Homo sapiens: one gene and its partners. The protein of the gene in region 1 purifies or fractionates together with the protein of each later gene. This does not show direct contact. Each region holds a gene or a part of one and is shown in the gene's direction. Other genes may lie near its edges.

What was found.
Region 2: the proteins of LIN28A (region 1) and LARP4 purify together in Homo sapiens (affinity purification with mass spectrometry; 3 studies listed by BioGRID and IntAct, with this or other methods). This does not show direct contact.
Region 3: the proteins of LIN28A (region 1) and NOC4L purify together in Homo sapiens (co-immunoprecipitation; 3 studies listed by BioGRID and IntAct, with this or other methods). This does not show direct contact.
Region 4: the proteins of LIN28A (region 1) and RBM28 purify together in Homo sapiens (affinity purification with mass spectrometry; 3 studies listed by BioGRID and IntAct, with this or other methods). This does not show direct contact.

What each region holds. Positions count from the first base shown.
Region 1 is NC_000001.11:26,420,151-26,425,191, forward strand, and holds part of LIN28A (protein lin-28 homolog A), read left to right. Parts: intron 1-5,041. UniProt on the Homo sapiens protein: RNA-binding protein that inhibits processing of pre-let-7 miRNAs and regulates translation of mRNAs that control developmental timing, pluripotency and metabolism.
Region 2 is NC_000012.12:50,427,530-50,432,570, forward strand, and holds part of LARP4 (la-related protein 4), read left to right. Parts: intron 1-232; coding exon 233-380; intron 381-1,387; coding exon of another isoform or gene 1,388-1,405; coding exon 1,406-1,561; intron 1,562-2,965; coding exon 2,966-3,041; intron 3,042-5,041. UniProt on the Homo sapiens protein: RNA binding protein that binds to the poly-A tract of mRNA molecules. Associates with the 40S ribosomal subunit and with polysomes. Plays a role in the regulation of mRNA translation.
Region 3 is NC_000012.12:132,146,602-132,150,898, forward strand, and holds part of NOC4L (nucleolar complex protein 4 homolog), read left to right. Parts: intron 1-679; coding exon 680-787; intron 788-1,031; coding exon 1,032-1,181; intron 1,182-1,278; coding exon 1,279-1,378; intron 1,379-1,470; coding exon 1,471-1,505; intron 1,506-1,990; coding exon of another isoform or gene 1,991-2,007; coding exon 2,008-2,058; intron 2,059-2,182; coding exon 2,183-2,294; intron 2,295-4,297.
Region 4 is NC_000007.14:128,301,723-128,306,763, reverse strand, and holds part of RBM28 (RNA-binding protein 28), read left to right. Parts: 3' UTR 1-5,041. UniProt on the Homo sapiens protein: Nucleolar component of the spliceosomal ribonucleoprotein complexes.

The sequences.
Region 1 (5,041 bases):
GGTTTCGCCCTGTTGCCCAGGCTGGTCTCCAACTCCTGAGCCTCAAGCTCAGAATCCACCTGCCTCAGTCACCCAAATTGCTGGGATTACAGTTGTGAGCCACCATGCCCGACCTTACAAATCTAACTTTAAACTCAGGGTGGTTACTGTGAAACAGCGAGAGAGGTATTGCACCCGGCCTGCAATATCATCTTAAAACAAAAATTTGGCCGGGCATGGTGTGTAATCCCAGCACTTTAGGAGGCATGAGGTCAGGAGTTTGAGACCAGCCTGGCCAATAAGGTGAAACCCTGTCTCTACTAGAAATACAAAAATTAGCTGGGTGTGGTGGCGTGCGCCTGTAGTCCTAGCTTAAACCCAGAAGAATCGCTTAAACCCAGGAGGCGGAGGTTGCAGTGAGCTGAGATCGTGTCACTGCACTTCAGCATGGGCGACAGAGCAAGACTTTCTCAAAAAAAAAAAAAAAAAATTAAGTGATAAGGAATCTGTGGTTCCTTCATCTTGATGAAGAGCATGTTTCATTTAAGTTCCAGTTTGGAATATTACCCCCCAGCCACCAGCATAAAATACGAATGCTACTTACTCATGTTCCCTTGAGCCAGGACTAGGTAAGTGCACAGTGATCCCTTTTGCTTCTCCATTTTCTATGACGACTACTCCTTGTTGACATATTTGACACTGTTGTTTTACTATAATAGATGAAGCTGTAATGAAGTCTATTCTGGGTAGGGTCTGAGATGCTGTCACCTCCGCTAATGTCAAGTTGGTGGTGCAGTAAGTGGCATGATAGAATGAGCTCTGAGCTTTAAATCAGGAACTCTGGGTTCATCTGACCCTGGCTTTGCTACAGAACTAGCTGTATCAACAACTACTTTTTTTTTTTTTCTTGATGGCTGCTGGCTGTTTGCTAACTGCTTTATAAATATCAGTGTCCTTAAATTTTGGTACAAACGTGCAGTGTTCTAATAGGATTATTCCATACATATTGTTCTAAATCTTGCTTTTTGTTTTTTCTTTTAACAATATTATTTGGTGATCTTTCTCAGCTGAATGATTAAAAATCTGCCTCCTGTTTCATTAATTCATTCAAAAATGTGCTAGGCATTATTTCAGGTACCAAAATGTGGCTGTGAACAAACCAAAGACTTTACGTTGTTCTTAATGGCTGCGTGGTATTCATTATTATAGATGTACCATATTTATTCAACCATTCCCCTTCAAATACACCAGTAGGTTATTTCCAATTTTTTTAAAGCAACAATGAGATACTGAGTATATGTGTCGTGCTAAGACTTCCTACTGATAATCTACTTATATTATGTTGTGTAATTCTTTTTTCTTAGTGATTTATGGTATATTTTTGTAGTTTTACCAGTCTGATTATCTGTCTTAACTTTTCAGTATTTTTCTTAACAATGAGGTGTTTAAATCCTCTGAAATGTATTTTGCATATGTATCATACAAAGTCTGTAGGAATATGACTTCCTTTCCCAATGGATTATTAATTTTTATAGCAGCATTTATTGAATTATTTTTCTTACCTATTGATTTCTCCATATATTCTCAGATCTCTGTGATTTTCCATTTTAATCCTCTGATCCATCTGCTTGGGTTATACTGTCTTTCGGTAACATTATTTTGATATAATTTCAAACTTTAAAAAGGCTGCAAGAACAATACCCAACACTCCCACATAACCTCTACCCAGATTCATTGACTCTTAACATTTTGCCCCATTTGCTTTATCATTCTCTATCTTGCTACAGATAGTTTTTTTTTTGAAACCATAAGTTGGAGACAGTAAGCACTTTTATCTCTAAATATTTCAGTGCGTATTTCCCAAGAATGGGAATATTTATCTTTTTTTTTTTTTTCTGAGACAGGGTCTCACTCTGTCACCCAGCCTGGAGCACAGTTGTGTGATCTCTGCTCACTGCAACCTCTGCCTCCTGGGCTCAAGGGATCCTCCCACCTCAGCCTCCCCAGTAGTTGGGACTACAGGTGTGTACCACTGTGCCTGGCTCATTTTTGTATTATTTTGTAGAGATGGGTTTTTGCCATATTGCCCAAGCTGGTCTCGAATTCCTGGGCTCAAGCAATCCGCCCATCTTGGCCTCCCAAAGTGCTGGGGATTATAGGCATCAGCCACTGTGCCTGGCTGGGAATATCAATCTTACATCGTTTCAGTACACTAATCATAATCAGGAAATTAAACACTGGTACATTTATCTATATACCATATGCAAATTTTGTCAATTGTCCTATTTTTTTTTTTTTTTTCCTGTTTCAAGATCCAATCTGGAATCTTGGATTTCATTGAACTGTTCAGTTCTTCAGGCTTTGTCTTTTTATGACCTTGACATTTTTGAAGTCCTGTTTTATAGGAATGTCCCTCAGTTTGGGTTTGTCTGATGTTCCCTCAAGGTTAGATTCAGGATGTGCATTTTTAAAGTCATAAGTCCTTAGTGCATCATATTAGAAGATATGTGTGTCCCATTGTAGGCAAAGCTAAACTCAAAGAACTTGACTAGGGTATTATCTGCCAGTTTTCTCCACTGTAAACTTGCTGTTTTTCCCTTTGTAGTTGCTACACTGCTGATTATATCCAATTTAAATTGTAATATCTGGTATTCTTGGCAATTTATATTTTCCCATAGCCTTTAGAATCACTCAATCTTCCAATCCAAGATCGTGGTATGTTTTTGCATTTTTTCCTTTAATATATTTGAGTTTTTTCTTCATATAGGCTTTTTACCTTGTTAAATGTATTCTGAGGGTTTTGGTGTTTTTGTTTGTTTCTGAGAGAGGGTCTTACTCTGTCGCCCAGGCTGGAATGCAGTGGCATAATCTTGGCTCACTACAACCTCCGCCTCATGGGCTCAAGTGATGCTCCCACCTCTGCTGGGATTACAGGGGTGAGCCAGACAGAGTCTCGCTCCATCACCCAGGCTGGAGTACAGTGGTGCCATCTCTGCAACCTCTGCCTCCCGGGTTCAAACAATTGCCTCAGCCTCTCGAGTAGCTGAGATTACAGGTCTGCGCACCATACCCAGCTAATTTTTGTGTTTTTTGTAGAAATGGCATTTCGTCACGTAGGCCAGGCTGGTGTTGAACTCCTGGATTCATGTGATCTGCCCACCTCAGCCTCCCCAAAGTGCTGGGATTACAGACAGGCATGAGCCACTGTGCCTGGCCTATTCTGTTTGTTTGGTTTTTTAACATGTTTTGCAGCCATTATTATGATTTCCTTTTTTTTCTTTTTCTTTTTTTTTTTTTTTTTTTTTTTGTTGTTGTTGTTGCCCAGGCTAGAGTAGAATGGCGCAATCTTGGCTCACCGCAACCTCCGCCTCCCGGGTTCAAGTGATTCTCCTACCTCAGCCTCCCAAGTAGCTGGGATTATAGATGCCCACCACCACGCCTGGCTAATTTTGTATTTTTAGTAGTAGAGACAGGGTTTCTCCATGTTGGTCAGGCTGGTCTCAAACTCCTGACCTCAGGTGATATGCCCGCCTCGGCTTCCCAAAGTGCTGGGATTACAGGCATGAGCCATTGCGCACGGCCCATTAGTATTATTTCTTAAATCATTGAGCATCTTGAGTTTGTTTTTTTGTTTGTTGGTTTGTTTGTTTTGCGACGGAGTCTTGCTCTGTCACCCAGGCTGGAGTACAGTGGCGCGATCTCAGCTCACTGCAAGCTCTGCCTCCCAGGTTCATGCCATTCTCCTGCCTCAGCCTCCGGAGTAGCTGGGACTACAGGCACCCGCCACCACGCCTGGCTAATTTTTTGTATTTTTAGTAGAGACGGGGTTTCACCGTGTTAGCCAGGATGGTCTCGATCTCCTGACCTCGTGATCCCCTGCCTTTGCCTCCCAAAGTGCTGGGATTACAGGCGTGAGGCAGCGCACCCGGCCTTTTTTTTTTTCTTTTTTAAATAAGGCATATCATATTGCTTTGATTATAAAAATACCACTTGATTTTGTATTTTTTCCAGTATTCTACTTATTTGGTCTTTTGATGATGGTATAAATACTAAGTGAGGCATTATGTGAAAAATGAATATTTCAGTGCTTCATAGCGTGACATTTTATTTTTATTTTATTTATTTATTTCTTTGAGATGGAGTCTTGCTCTGTCAACCAGGCTAGAGTACAGTGGCATGATGGCTCACTGAAACCTCTGCCTCCGGGGTTCAAGCAACTCTCCTGCCCCAACTGCCCAAGTAGCTGGGATTACAGGCGCCCACCACCACACCCGGCTAATTTTTGTATTTTTAGTAGAGACAGGGTTTCACCATGTTGGCCAGGCTGGTCTCGAACTCTGGACCTCGTGATCCACCTGCTTCAGCCTCCCAAAGTGCTGGGGTTAAAGGCGTAAGCCACCGTGTGTGGCTGAGCCACCATGCCCAGCTATTTTTACTTTTATTTTATTTATTTATTTTTGAGACGAAGTCTTGCTGTGTTGCCCAGGCTGGAGTGCAAAGGCGCCATCTTGGCTCACTGCAACCTCTATAGTGTGACACTTTAAATTTCGTAATTTTATATTTGTTGATTTCTTCCAAATGCTTGTATTTACAAATTTTTCTGTTTGTTGTTGTTTGTTTGTTTGTTTTTGAGACAAAGTCTCACTCTGTCGCCCAGGCTGGAGTGCAATAGTGTGATCTCAGCTCACTGCAACCTTTGCTTCCTGGGTTCAAGCAATTCTCCTGCCTCAGTCTCCCAAGTAGCTGGGATTACAGGTGCCCGCCACCACGCCCAGCTAATTTTTTTTATTTTTAGTAGAGACAGAGTTTCACCATGTTGGCCAAGCTGGTCTCGAACTCCTGACTTCAGGTGATCCTCCCGCCTCAGCCTCTCAAAGTGCTAGGATTATAGGTGTGAGCCACCGTACCCGGCCCTCTGTTCTATTTTATTAAGAACTTTAAACCTGAATAGCTACAAAAATGTCATGGCATCTGCTTATATAATTACGATTTTTGTTAATGTACTGGTAGACTTTGTTGTTCTTAATCGTAGTGACTCTTTGAGTCAGTTTCCTTACCAGTA
Region 2 (5,041 bases), on another chromosome or scaffold:
TTTCTGTTTTAATATTTAGAGATACCTATTTTTTATTATATAGGAAGCTAAATTTTATATAGATGTCTCACATTTTCAAGTTGATCAAAACTTTAATATTATTTATTATTTGTTAAATATAATTATTGGGTTTCTCCCCCACTTTTAAGTAATGGAAAAGTGATTTTATCTGAATCTGTAATTTTCATGCTCTGATTTTAAAAATTTACAAATAGATCCTTCGATTATTTAGCAGGTAGCATCTAAAGGAACTGGTTTAAATCCTAATGCCAAAGTATGGCAAGAAATTGCTCCTGGAAATACTGATGCCACCCCAGTAACTCATGGAACTGAAAGCTCTTGGCATGAAATAGCAGCTACATCAGGTGCTCATCCTGAGGGTAAGTCTTAAATATTTGGTCATAAAAATCACAGTTTGGTTAAATGTATGGCCAAGCAAGTTTACTGAACTTGAGACACATCTCTTTTTTTTTTTTTTTTTTTTGAGACAGAGTCTTCCTCTGTCACCCAGGCTGGAGTACAGTGGCGCAGTCTTCACTCACTGCAACCTCCACCTCCCGGGTCCAAGCAGTTCTCCTGCCTCAGCCTCCCGGGTGGCTGGGATTACAGGCGCCTGGCTTTATCTCATGCCTGTAATCCCACACCCGGTTACCACACCCGGCTAATTTTTGTATTTTTAGTAGAGATGGGGTTTCACCATATTGGCCAGGCTGGTCTCGAACTCCTGACCTCAAGTGATCCACCAGCCTCGGCCTCCCAAAGTGCTGGGATTACAGGTGTGAACCACCATGCCTGGCCAGGATATATCCTTTGATTATTTGATTAAGTATATTTATCAATTTTTCTTCCTTTAAACATACTGCATCCAGCATTTATAAATGTTTAACATGTAGTTTGTATATAATTCTCATTTATATCTAACATGAATAGATTGCCACTAATTTCAAGTAGTAGCCGTGTTTTTGGGTCCAGCATGCAACCCATCTATAATAATTATATTTATAAATTAGTTTTTATCTACCATCATTGACTCTGCTATTTACTCACTGTTCGACCTTGGGCAAATAACTTAATTTCTCTATGCTTTTTTCCCTCCATCTGTAAAACAGAAGCAATCTTAATTACAGCACAGGATTTTCTGATAATTAAATGAATAAAGTGCATGGAGTAGTCTGATACATGGATAATGCTATATACGTTTTAGCAATTGTTGATCATTTTAGTTTATCTGTAATTGTCAAAACTTATCTCCCTCGGAATGATAACTCTTGCTTAAAACCATGCGGACATATTTCAAACTGGTAGAAATCCTTAAAATCTTTTTATAGGTGACATACTGCCCAGAGTTCCTGAGAATAGAATTTAAATAATTCCCATTTACTTTCAGTGTCTGTCTTTAATACAGGTAATGCAGAGCTCTCAGAAGATATATGTAAAGAATATGAAGTAATGTATTCTTCATCTTGTGAAACCACAAGAAATACTACAGGCATTGAAGAATCAACTGATGGGATGATTTTAGGACCAGAAGATCTGAGTTACCAAATATATGATGTTTCCGGTAAACTTTATGGTTTTATTGTTAAAATGAGAATTCAGTACAGGACACCCCCCACCCATGGTCTCTTTATACTTGTTCTGATAAACCTATGGCATTATTTTCTTATTTGAAAAGAAGGTTACGTTAATGAAATGTTAGTTGATTGTTACATTGTTTTCAGATAACATGACTTTTGTAATGTTAAGATTGTTTATGAGGGTTCTATTAAAGGAAAGCGTGAAATTAAAGATAACAGAAAAAAAGGCGGGGTGGCTCATGCCTGTAATCCCAGCGCTTTAGGAGGCCCAGGCGGGCAGATCACTTGAGGTCAGGAGTTTGAGACTAGCCTGGCCAACATGGTGAAACACTGTCCTATACTGAAAAAAAAAAATTAGCTGGGCATGGTGGCATGCACCTATAATCCCAAGATCATGCCACTGCACTCCAACCTGGGTGACAGAGTGAAACTGTGTCTGAAAAAAAAATTTTGTGTGTCTATATATAAACAACTGCCTACTTTGAACATAGAGTTGAAGTGATATGGTAAGCAATTGGTGTTTTTTTGTTGTTGTTTTTTTGTTGTTGTTGAGAGGGAGTCTCGCTCTGTTGCCCAGGCCGGAGTGCAGTGGCGTGATCTTGGCTCACTGCAATCTCTGCCTCCTGGGTTCAAGTGATACTCCTGTCTCAGCCTCCCGAGTAGCTGGGATTACAGGCACGCGCCACCACACCTGGCTAATTTTTGTATTTTTAGTAAAGATGGTGTTTCACCATGTTGGCCAGGCTGGTCTCAAACTCCTGACCTCAAGTAATCCACCTGCCTTTGGCCTCCCAAAGTGCTGGGATTACAGGCGTGAGCCACCATGCCCGGCCTTTAAGTGCTTTTAGTATTGTGCATTGTTAATTTTTTGATAAAGATAACCTTAAACTAATATGAAATGTATCTGATGAAAGAATATCTAGATTGACAGAAATTAGTTAGACTTTGAACTGTCCAAATTATAAAAATAATAAAAAATACAGTTTGGGCCAGGCACAGTGGCTTATGCCTGTGGCCAAGGTAGGAGGATTGCTTGAGCCCAGGAGTTTGAGAACAGTCTGGGCAACATAATGAGAGCCTGTCTCTACAAAAAAATAAAAATAAAAAGTTAGCTGGGTATCATGGCACAAGTTTGTGGTCCTAGCTACTCAAGAAGCTGTGGTGGGAGGATCATTTGAGCCCAGGAGGTTGAGGCTATACTGAGCTGTGATCACACCACTGTACTCTAGCCTGGGCAACAAAGGGAGACCCTGTTTCTCTGAAACAATAGCTTTGTGGTGAATTTTGATTGTAGATACTTTGTGGCTTCTGAGTACAACAGTATGTCAGATTTATCACCTCTACTAACATGCTATTAACTTTTTTTCCCTCTTCTTTTCTACCATCAGGAGAAAGCAATTCAGCAGTTTCTACAGAAGACCTAAAAGAATGTCTGAAGAAACAATTAGAATTCTGTTTTTCACGGTATTGCTGTTTCCCCTTTATTGAATTTTATTAGTAGATGTAAAATACGTGTGAAATAGAGCGCAAGGATGGTGATTATTATTTAACTAATTTTTTTTTTTATTTTCTTGAGACAGAGTCTCATGTTGTCGCTGGGCTGGAGTGCAGTGGTGTGATCTCGGCTCACAGCAGCCTCCGCCTCCAGGGTTCAAGAGATTCTTGTGCCTCAGCCTCCAGAGTAGCTGGGATTACAGGCGTGCAGCCACCATGCCCAGCTAATATTTGTATTTTTAGTAGAGACAGGGTTTCACCATGTTGGCCAGGCCAGTCTCAAACATGCAACCTCATGTGACCTGCCCTCCTCTGCCTTGCAAAGTGTCGGGATTACAGGCGTATGGCACCACACTCGGCCCCTTGTCTAGATTTAAAAGTGTAGGGTCGGGCGCTGTGGCTCATGCCTGTAATCCCAGCACTTTGGGAGGCTTCGGTGGCTGGATCACCTGAAGCTGGGAGTTCGAGACCTGCCTGACCAACATGGAGAAACCCCGTCTCTACTAAAAATACAAAAATTAGCGGGGCATGGTGGTGCGTGCCTGTAATCCCAGCTACTTGGGAGGCTGAGGCAGGAGAATCACTTGAACCCCGGAGGCGAAGGTTGTGGTGAGCTGAGATCGCACCATTGCGCTCCAGCCTGGGCAACAAGAGCGAAACTCCATCTCAAAAAAGAAAAAGTGTAGTCTCCAGTCTGATATGCAGAGGATCTATTCTTAATATAAAGATAATGAAGTTTGCATTGGATGTTTTTTCTATGAACATACTCAATTTTGGAATTGACAAAAAGTTATTTCTTAATGCATGTTTTAATAGTTGATTCTTGTAATGTTAATCATAGAGTCATTTTTGGCAAAATAGTAAGGAGTTGGACAGATAATTTATATTGCCAATGTCTTCTCTTAAATAAGGAATCCTTTCAGGCAAACATTTGGAGAAGTCTTATTTACAGATAAGAATAATGGGCCAGGCGCAGTGGCTCATGCCTGTAATCCTAGCACTTTGGGAGGGCAAGGTGGGCAGATCATGAGGTCAGGGGTTCAAGAACAGGCTTGCCAACATGGTGAAACCTTGTCTCTAATAAAAAATACAAAAATTAGCCAGGTGTGGTGGTGGGCGCCTGTAATCCCAGCTACTCGGGAGGTGGCAGCAGGAGAATCACTTGAACCGGGGAGGTAGAGATTGCAGTGAGCTGAGGTTATTCCTGGGCTCCAGCCTGGGCGGCAAGAGCGAAATTCCACCTCAAAAACAAGGAAACAAAAACATTCATGTAATATTTACTTTAGCCTGTACTTTGGGAGGCCAAAGTAGGTGGATCACCTGAGGTCAGGAGTTCAAGACCAGCCTGGCCAATATGGCAAAATCCCATCTCTACGAAAATACAAAAATTAGCGGGGTGTGGTAGCGTGGCCCTGTAGTTCCAGCTACTGGAGGCTGAGGCAGGAGAATTGCTTGAACCCAGGATGTGGAGTATGCAGTAAGCCGAGGTTGCAGCACTGCACTCCAGCCTGGGTGAATTTTACCTACTAACTAGATCATTTATGGGTCTGCTTCTATTGTCTGGGTTTCTTCTCTTGAATTATCTGTAATAATTTACTGCCTTTTTGTATGTCTTGTAAATTTTGATTTTATGCTGTACATTACATACAACAGAACCATAGAAGATGTAGGTGATATAACTCTAGACAGAGTTTGAGCTTTTTTTCTGTTAGGCAGAGAGTGATATGTTGATTGCTTCAATCCAATCAGGAACTGAGCTAGGTCAGGGCTGAGCAACAATTTTAAATGGACTCAGTTCACCTTTGATTTAGCTCTATTCCTTCTACATGGCCCTTTCAGGCTTTTGATTTAGAGCTTGGCAGTTTTGTGTCACCCTAATCTTACAAAACCAAGGAGATTTAGATCTCTAATACAGAGGTTTGAGATTTAGCTCTTTAACTTCCTACCCCATACTGCTTGAAAATCTGGCA
Region 3 (4,297 bases), on another chromosome or scaffold:
CACATCCTCGCCAACACGTCTGTCTATAATTATAGCCGAGCTGCAGACTTTTAAATGTTGGGGAGATACCACGTGAAAATAACCAGTTTCCACCTTCTCAGAAAGAAATAATCAGTTCTGTCAACACGGGGTCTAAGTTTGTTCATGGCTGCGATTGGCTGGAGGGAGAGTCAGAGACAGCTCTGAGACAGCCGTGTGCTCCTGTCATCCCGCACGAGGCTCTTTTGCTTTGTGGTGTCATTTGCCTGGGCCCTGAAAGCACTGAGTTTGCCACCCCGAGATGAGAGCTTCCAAGCCTGGGTCTGAGTTGGGCACCATGCTGGCATCACACGCCTGTGTTTTCACAGCTGTTCCCAAGGGTTATGGTGGCATTCCCGTGACACAGGTGACGAGAGAGCAGTCAGGTGGCCCATAAAGCAGACCTGGGCTGTGTACCCTTCCCCCGCCAGACTCTGTCGTGAGCACTGGATCTCTTTAACTAGAGATCTTGTCATCTCTACGTCATGGGTGGGACACGGAAGCCCAGAGTGGCATCTGGTGGCGTGTGGAGCAAGAGAAGGCCCGGCCGCCCTTTTCTCAGCTCTGGGCCTAGATGGGAGGGGCTCCCTGACTGGGCTGAGCTCTGGGCCCATCCGTGGGGTGAGGGCATCACAGCCACCCTGCACTGCCCCCTTCCCAGGAGCTGGCCCTCAGCGCACTCCTGAAGTTCGTGCAGCTGGAAGGAGCGCACCCCCTGGAGAAGTCCAAGTGGGAAGGCAACTACCTGTTCCCCCGAGAGCTCTTCAAGGTGAGGGCCTTGCTGGGGACTCCCAGAGGGCCTGGCTGGCTGGCCAGATCCCAGGATGGCCCCGTAGTGGGGGCGGGGCCTGCTGAGCTGAGCCTGGCTGTTGGCTGGGACACTCCTGTGGCTCCTGTGGCCCACCCAACCAGGAGGAGTCTGCCTGGGGGGCTCGATGGGGCAGGGCTGCCTGCCTGGACCTTGCTGGCGTATGCTGGGCCGGGCAGGGCTGCTCACTGGTCCTTGCCCCTAGTTGGTGGTGGGAGGCCTGCTGTCTCCTGAGGAGGACCAGAGCCTGCTCCTGTCCCAGTTCCGGGAGTACCTGGACTACGACGACACCCGCTACCACACCATGCAGGCAGCCGTGGATGCCGTGGCCCGGGTCACTGGCCAGCACCCCGAGGTGGGTGATGGGGTCCTGTCGCCAGCATCATGCTGTTGCCTCCCAGGGAGGCAGGGACTGGGGGGCGGCGTCCAGGCACTCAGGCCAGGCTCCGCAGGTGCCCCCCGCCTTTTGGAACAATGCCTTCACGCTGCTGTCTGCCGTGAGCCTGCCCCGCCGGGAGCCCACCGTCTCCAGCTTCTATGTGAAGCGGGCGGGTGAGTGTGCTGAGAGTCAGGGGCGGACAGGGCTGAGCCTTGGTCTGCCTCCCCTGCGGGTCAGGTGACCTTTGCCCTCGCTTTCCCTGCAGAGCTGTGGGACACCTGGAAGGTTGCTCACCTGAAGGTGAGTTGCTTCTGGAGAGCCGGGCACCCTCCCGGGTTTGGGGGTGTGTGTGGGGTGCATGTGAGACCCCATGGAGGCTGCCGCCTTCCTCACCAGAGGAAACTCCCAGGGTACAGGTGGCAGCTTGCACGGCCACCAGGTCACTCGAAGTGTGGGAGGTGACGAGACCTGTGAACTCGGGACCCTCCCTTGGGTCAGAGGCCACCGCCGCCTCTTGGAGTCAAGCCTCTGGTGCCACCTGTGGGCCCCGTGGGCTGTTTTGGGCGCAGCCCCCCTCTTGGCCATGGTCTTGCCAAAGCTGCTTTCTTGGCTGTTCTGAGACTCCAGCCTCGAGGGCAAGGCGTACCTGACTTGAATGGGGACAGGAAGAAGGAAGGCAGGGTCAGAAAAGTGGAGAGCAGGCTTGTGTTGGCTCAGGCTGGGCTTCGGGGTGCCCTGGCAGCTGCTCGGGCTCTGGTCTGGGGTGGGGAGGGCGGCGAGTGCAGTCTGGACCCCGTTGCAGGAGCACAGGAGGGTTTTCCAGGCCATGTGGCTCAGCTTCCTCAAGCACAAGGTAGGGGCCAGGCCGGGGAGGGGGCGGGGGCGGCATCCGGGTCTCCCCCAGGGCGGAGGCCTCACCCCGACCCGCCGGCCCCCGCCCACCCGCCCCTCACCCCCACCTGCCGGCCCCCGCCCAGCTGCCCCTCAGCCTCTACAAGAAGGTGCTGCTGATTGTGCATGACGCCATCCTGCCGCAGCTGGCGCAGCCCACGCTCATGATCGACTTCCTCACCCGCGCCTGCGACCTCGGTGAGTGCCGCCGCCTCGCTCACACCACACCCCTAATCCCCTCGGTGAGTGCCGCCGCCTCACTCCTACCACACCCCTAATCCCCTCGGTGAGTGCCGCCGCCTCACTCCTACCACACCCCTAATCCCCTCGGTGAGTGCCGCCGCCTCACTCACACCACACCCCTAATCCCCTCGGTGAGTGCCGCCGCCTCACTCCTACCACACCCCTAATCCCCTCGGTGAGTGCCGCCGCCTCACTCCTACCACACCCCTAATCCCCTCGGTGAGTGCCGCCGCCTCGCTCACACCACACCCCTAATCCCCTCGGTGAGTGCCGCCGCCTCGCTCACACCACACCCCTAATCCCCTCGGTGAGTGCCGCCGCCTCGCTCACACCACACCCCTAATCCCCTCGGTGAGTGCCGCCGCCTCGCTCACACCACACCCCTAATCCCCTCGGTGAGTGCCGCCGCCTCGCTCACACCACACCCCTAATCCCCTCGGTGAGTGCCGCCGCCTCGCTCACACCACACCCCTAATCCCCTCGGTGAGTGCCGCCGCCTCGCTCACACCACACCCCTAATCCCCTCGGTGAGTGCCGCCGCCTCGCTCACACCACACCCCTAATCCCCTCGGTGAGTGCCGCCGCCTCACTCACACCACACCCCTAATCCCCTCGGTGAGTGCCGCCGCCTCACTCACACCACACCCCTAATCCCCTCGGTGAGTGCCGCCGCCTCGCTCACACCACACCCCTAATCCCCTCGGTGAGTGCCGCCGCCTCACTCCTACCACACCCCTAATCCCCTCGGTGAGTGCGGCCGCCTCACTCACACCACACCCCTAATCCCCTCGGTGAGTGCGGCCGCCTCGCTCACACCACACCCCTAATCCCCTCGGTGAGTGCCGCCGCCTCGCTCACACCACACCCCTAATCCCCTCGGTGAGTGCCGCCGCCTCGCTCACACCACACCCCTAATCCCCTCGGTGAGTGCCGCCGCCTCACTCCTACCACACCCCTAATCCCCTCGGTGAGTGCCGCCGCCTCGCTCATACCACACCCCTAATCCCCTCGGTGAGTGCCGCCGCCTCACTCACACCACACCCCTAATCCCCTCGGTGAGTGCCGCCGCCTCGCTCACACCCCTAATCCCCTCGGTGAGTGCCGCCGCCTCGCTCACACCACACCCCTAATCCCCTCGGTGAGTGCCGCCGCCTCGCTCACACCACACCCCTAATCCCCTCGGTGAGTGCCGCCGCCTCGCTCACACCACACCCCTAATCCCCTCGGTGAGTGCCGCCGCCTCGCTCACACCACACCCCTAATCCCCTCGGTGAGTGCCGCCGCCTCGCTCACACCACACCCCTAATCCCCTCGGTGAGTGCCGCCGCCTCGCTCACACCACACCCCTAATCCCCTCGGTGAGTGCCGCCGCCTCGCTCACACCACACCCCTAATCCCCTCGGTGAGTGCCGCCGCCTCGCTCACACCACACCCCTAATCCCCTCGGTGAGTGCCGCCGCCTCGCTCACACCACACCCCTAATCCCCTCGGTGAGTGCCGCCGCCTCGCTCACACCACACCCCTAATCCCCTCGGTGAGTGCCGCCGCCTCGCTCACACCACACCCCTAATCCCCTCGGTGAGTGCCGCCGCCTCGCTCACACCACACCCCTAATCCCCTCGGTGAGTGCCGCCGCCTCGCTCATACCACACCCCTAATCCCCTCGGTGAGTGCCGCCGCCTCGCTCATACCACACCCCTAATCCCCTCGGTGAGTGCCGCCGCCTCGCTCATACCACACCCCTAATCCCCTCGGTGAGTGCCGCCGCCTCGCTCACACCACACCCCTAATCCCCTCGGTGAGTGCCGCCGCCTCGCTCACACCCCCAACCCCCACCCCGCAGCACCTCTTCCCCGATCCCACTGCCTCCACCCCCCACTCCCCTGCCCTGCATGTGGTCTCCAGCTTTGTGTCCGTGGGGGCTGTGGGAGGGGACAGCAGGGGCAGAGGCCACACTC
Region 4 (5,041 bases), on another chromosome or scaffold:
GGGAACTAATTCTGAGAAGAGAACTGCTGAGTTACTGAAAGACCTTTTGGACCACCCCTAAATGGAGCATCTTGATAGATGGCAAATCCAGTGTTTCTTAAACTTGTCCATGCTGCCCAGAGCCCACTGCCTTTTATCAGATGTGAGACTTCACTGCCACAGTGTCATCCCACAGTTTCCTTCCCTGGACATTTGATAAAGGGAAAATCATTTCTTGTCCTTTAAGGCAGGGACTATTATTTTTTCACTTTTCCACATACCCCACAACACCTAACATTGATTTACTCGTAGTAGGAGTTTCATACTGTTGAACTCTCTAAAGGCCATTTGTTCCAGGGCCTAGCTGGGCTTGTGAAGGACAACAGAGTCATTTCCTAAGGACCCCAAAAGACAGCATGAAGGAAAAAATAATAATAAACTGCTGTTCACAGTGCCTTGAGTGTACCACCGTACTTTCTGCTATGCCTTGTCCATTCCAATCTGGACAGTCTCTGTGCCCCTCCTTTCCACTCAAGTGTTATCCAGCACTCAAGTTCTGGCTCAAGGCCCAACATCTCCGTGGGGACCTCAGCCATCCCAGGGCATTGTGACCCCTTCCTCTAAGTCCCCGGCACACTCGCTGATTGGTACCCTCTCATTCGACAAAGCATATGCCATTGTGGCTTACTTGTCATTTCTTTAGGTCTTGCCTTCCCAAGTAGATCATGAGCCACTATAAGAACTAGCTCCCATAGTCCCAGCCCCTGGGCCTGGTACATGGCAATGCTTAGTGATTGGTGATTGAGGATAATGGTGGTAAAGGATGTACCAGACAGTCATCTCCTGAAGAGATGCCGAACAACCTGTCCTTGTTTTATGTATTTTCTCTTTCTTTCCTGTCCAGTTTTATTCCTCTCATAGTAACTGCTAAAAAAATATCAGTTCCTGTCACTCTTCCACCCCTTTTCTCCCTCTCCCCTGCATTGTGGTCTGGGCCTTGGTCCACTAGCAACTCCCCTTAGGTGTTGCTTAATCTGCCTCATGGCCAAAGCCAATCCCATTCCTGTCCCCCGCTACCCAAGGGACTCCCAGTCTGTATGCACAAGGCGGGATGTGAAGTCTGGATGTGCAAGAAACCCAGCTGTAAGAAACAGCTTCCCTCGGCTTGGCATGGTGGCTCATGCCTATATTCCCAGCACTTTGAGAGGTCAAAGTGGGAGAATCACTTGAGCCCAGGAGTTCAGGACTAGCCTGGGCAACATAGCAAGATCCCACCTCTACAAAAAAAGAAAAAATTCAGAGTCTCAAATGTCCCTTCATCTCCTTACTCTCGACCTGTCTCCCTAGTTCTCTGCCGCCTTTTCCTCTCCCCTGGATCTGACACTCAATTGTCTGCATGCACTTTTCAACTGAAAGAGACTCCAATGCCATCCTTCTGATGAAATTTTTGCTTTGGATACTACTGCAGAAAAAATGCTATCTTGTATTCTGGTCCATGGTGGGGAAGACCCTGTCGTAGAACCTGGCAACTCAAGTGGAGGGAGGGGCCAGAACATTGTTCTTATGCTATTTACAGTGAGACAACAGGATTGATGCAGAACTTTCTTTTTTTTTTTTTTTTTTTGAGACAGAGTTTCATTCTTGTTGCCCAGGGCTGGAGTGCAGTGGCATGATCTCAGCTCACTGCAACCTCCACCCCCCAGGTTCAAGCAGTTCTTCCTCAGCCTCCGGAGTAGCTGGGATTACAGGCGTGCGCCACCACGCCCCACTAATTTTTGTATTTTTGGTAGAGACGGGGTTTCACCAGTGTTGGCCAGGCTGGTCTCGAACTCCTGACCTCAGGTGATCCACCCACCTCGGCCTCCCAAAGTGCTGGGATTACAGGCATGAACCACCGTGCCCGGCCGTGATGCGCAACTTTCTAATAACATACTTTTGAAAGTGCCCAGACATACATCCCTCCTCTGGTACCACAGTGGCCATCAGTTGCCAGAGAACATGAAATTATCCAGCCCTCAGCTCTGCAGCAGGATTCTGAGGAGTAAAGCAGGCCTGTAAAGTACTCTAAAGTACTTCAGAGAGGTAATGCCACAAAGCGAAGAACACCTCTTGGAGGCAGAGCCCCTCAGCCCTATCCAGGCCAGCAGTGTCCACTTGAAATCTGAAAGCAGCCTCCCTCACCAAACCAGCAAGATGGAAAACCTCCCTGGGTTGGCAAGTGGCCCTGGGAAGTACATGCCCCATCTCTGTCAGGATAGCAGTGGAGAGGTTTCGTGCCAGTGCCAGCTCCACCCACCCAGATGGTACTCAAGACTCCAAGCCTGTCAATGGGGTGGAAACTTTCTGGCATTTTCTGTCAGAAGGGTGAGTTAGCACTGAACCATCTCATGTGTCTTTTCACTGAGTAACAGCCCATATCCATTCCATGAAATGAGTGACTGCTTTGTTGAATCAGATAGTAACAAACATTTATTTGTAGTCTGGTTGTGTCATATCATGGTTGAATTGCAAACAGGTTGGATAGAAGAGTCAGCAAAAATCAACAAAAGCATTCTGTAAAAAACTTTTCTAGAATTACAATAAATGGCATTGTATATTTTATTTATAAATTATGTGCTGCACATCATTTTTATCAATGAAATTTATAATAAATTTCTGTACATATATACATTTTTATCCCAGAGAGCCAGTTGTTAAGCATTTACCAGCAATAAATGCTTTTTGTTTCCTGCTTACACAGGTTCTGGGAGTGGCCAGCCCACTCTTTGAGATGTCCCCACTTGCTTTTTTAGTTGTCCAAGTAGTGTTCTGCCCAGCCTTCCCGACTCTCTTTCTTATCCTTCCCTCGAAACTATTCTGTTCCTTATGCTTAAATACTTTCCAGTCATGGGAGCTTTGCTGTAGGCCCTTGGCCTTTCATGGGTAGCTTCTGATACGTGCATGGGTGTTAATAGAGGAAGTTGACCCCGCCTGGGAAGAATAATGACCTATGGAGACCTGGCCCTTTCTCTTATGGCTTCTTAAAGTGACAGCTGTTATGGGAAGTTCAGGCATCTTGACGTGGAAAATACATTGTTCATTTTCTTTTAATTTTTTTTCCCCTAACCACTATACCAACAGGGATGGAAAGATACTTTTAGTTGGAAGGAATTTGGAGCCCTTAAACGACACCTGGAGCAGCTGCCTGTGGGTGGGGCTTTGCACAGTCTCATCCTGGCAAGGGAGGACGAGCCAAGGACCAGTTTTGCAGAATTGTCATCATGAGGCCCTGGTTGTGTGCTGGGCTGGGGCATTGCCCCTTTCCAGGAGGCCAGGCCAAGCAGGGCTGCCTGGCTTAGGCTTTTGCATCTTCAGCATCCTTTCACGTCTCTTATCTCAGGTGACCTTCACAGCAAGCCTGGTGAAGGTTATTGAGAAGCAGATGTCACCACCTAGTCTTAGAGCTGATGAAAGCAGGATGTGGGGAAGTCCAGACCCTCTCCTGAAACCCCTTGGCCACCTGAGCTAGTACCAGAGCAAGGTCCCACTTGGCCGTGAGTGCTGTCTCTAGGGCCTATTTCAGGAACTGTCTCATATATAAGAACAGAACACTTTTTGCCAGCTATACCAAATGTTTTTGGGATTAAAAAAATAGTTTCTCTTTTCCAAATTAGGTGGTAAGAAAAGGAAGGGCATTTTCATTCTCACATTCTTTGAATGTTGAAACGTTTTAAAAACTTCCAGCTGGGCTTGGTGGCTCATACCTGTAACCCCAGCACTATGGGAGGCTGAGATGGGAGGATCCCTTGAGGCCAGGAGTTCAGGACCAGCCTGGGCAACATAGTAAAACTGCCCAAAATTTGAAAATTAGCCTTGTGTGGTGGTGTGCACTGTAGTCCCAGCTGCTCGGGAGGCTGGGGCAGGAGGATTGCTTGAGCCCAGGAGTTTGAGGCTGCAGTGAGCTATGGTTGTACCACTGTACTCCAACCTGGGCAACAGCGTGATACCCTGTCTAAAAAAATAATAAAAATAAAAAAGGATTAAACCCTTTACTTGACCAGCTTCTTTTCCTGCTACCCCTGGACTAACTAATCATTACATATTTTTGTAGTTGTTTTTTCTTTCTTTCTCTCTCCTGATCTACCACAAGCCAAATGTACTCATATACATACTAATAGGTGAAAAAAGAGAGTCTGAGGAGTGAATACATTTATTTTGTGATTTCCTAGGCAGTAGCTAGGACTCCCTTAGAGGTTGCTAATAGGGAAAGGGTGCGCTGGCTCTACTCAGTTTTATAACTGCTTTTCCCCGAATTCTGCAGACATCTTCATTCCCCTGGAGGTCAGATAATGGCTATTTATTTTCCATAGCCATGAAAATCTCTGGGGAGAGCTGTGGCAATTTGACGAGAGCTATTAAAGGGACATTAGGATTGAAGTAGCTGCTCAGGCAGTCACATACCCTCGATCCTCATCTGCAGGGACAGCTGCCAGAACGAATGAGCCCAGCTCTCCTGCCCGCAGCCAGCCGCGTGTGGGTGCAACTGGCGACCAGCCACTGGAGTGAGTCCCAGGGAAGGGGACAGGTTCTTAGAATCACCATTTGTCTCTGCTCTCTCCCTCTCTGCAATAGGACGGGCACTCTAAACTCACATAATGGTTAATAACAACAGCTAACAATTACTGAGCACCTACTATGTGTCAGGCATGTGCTGAGGATGATCGCATCAAGTAAAATGCCTGTCTCTGGCCCAGAGGCCCAGAAGAAGAGAAAGAAGGGAAATCTGTAGGAGGCAAACAGTCCCTTACCCCTCTGCTTGCAGACCTTCAGTGACAGGACACTCCCTGTTTGCTCCAAGCACCTCTTGCATTTTCAGAGCTTGGGACACAGATTCAGGGACTTGCACTTCGATAGAGTGCCTCAGGACCCCTCGTCGGAGCCATGGAAAGTCAGTTTCTGGGCCCATCCTTCCTGTGGGGGTGTCTTTCCTTCTCTTGGCCACCCCCTAGGAATCCCTAGTAGAGAGCAGGCACTTAATAGCCAGTGCAGTGAGAGTGGTCTGTGATGTCTGGGCCAGGGCAAG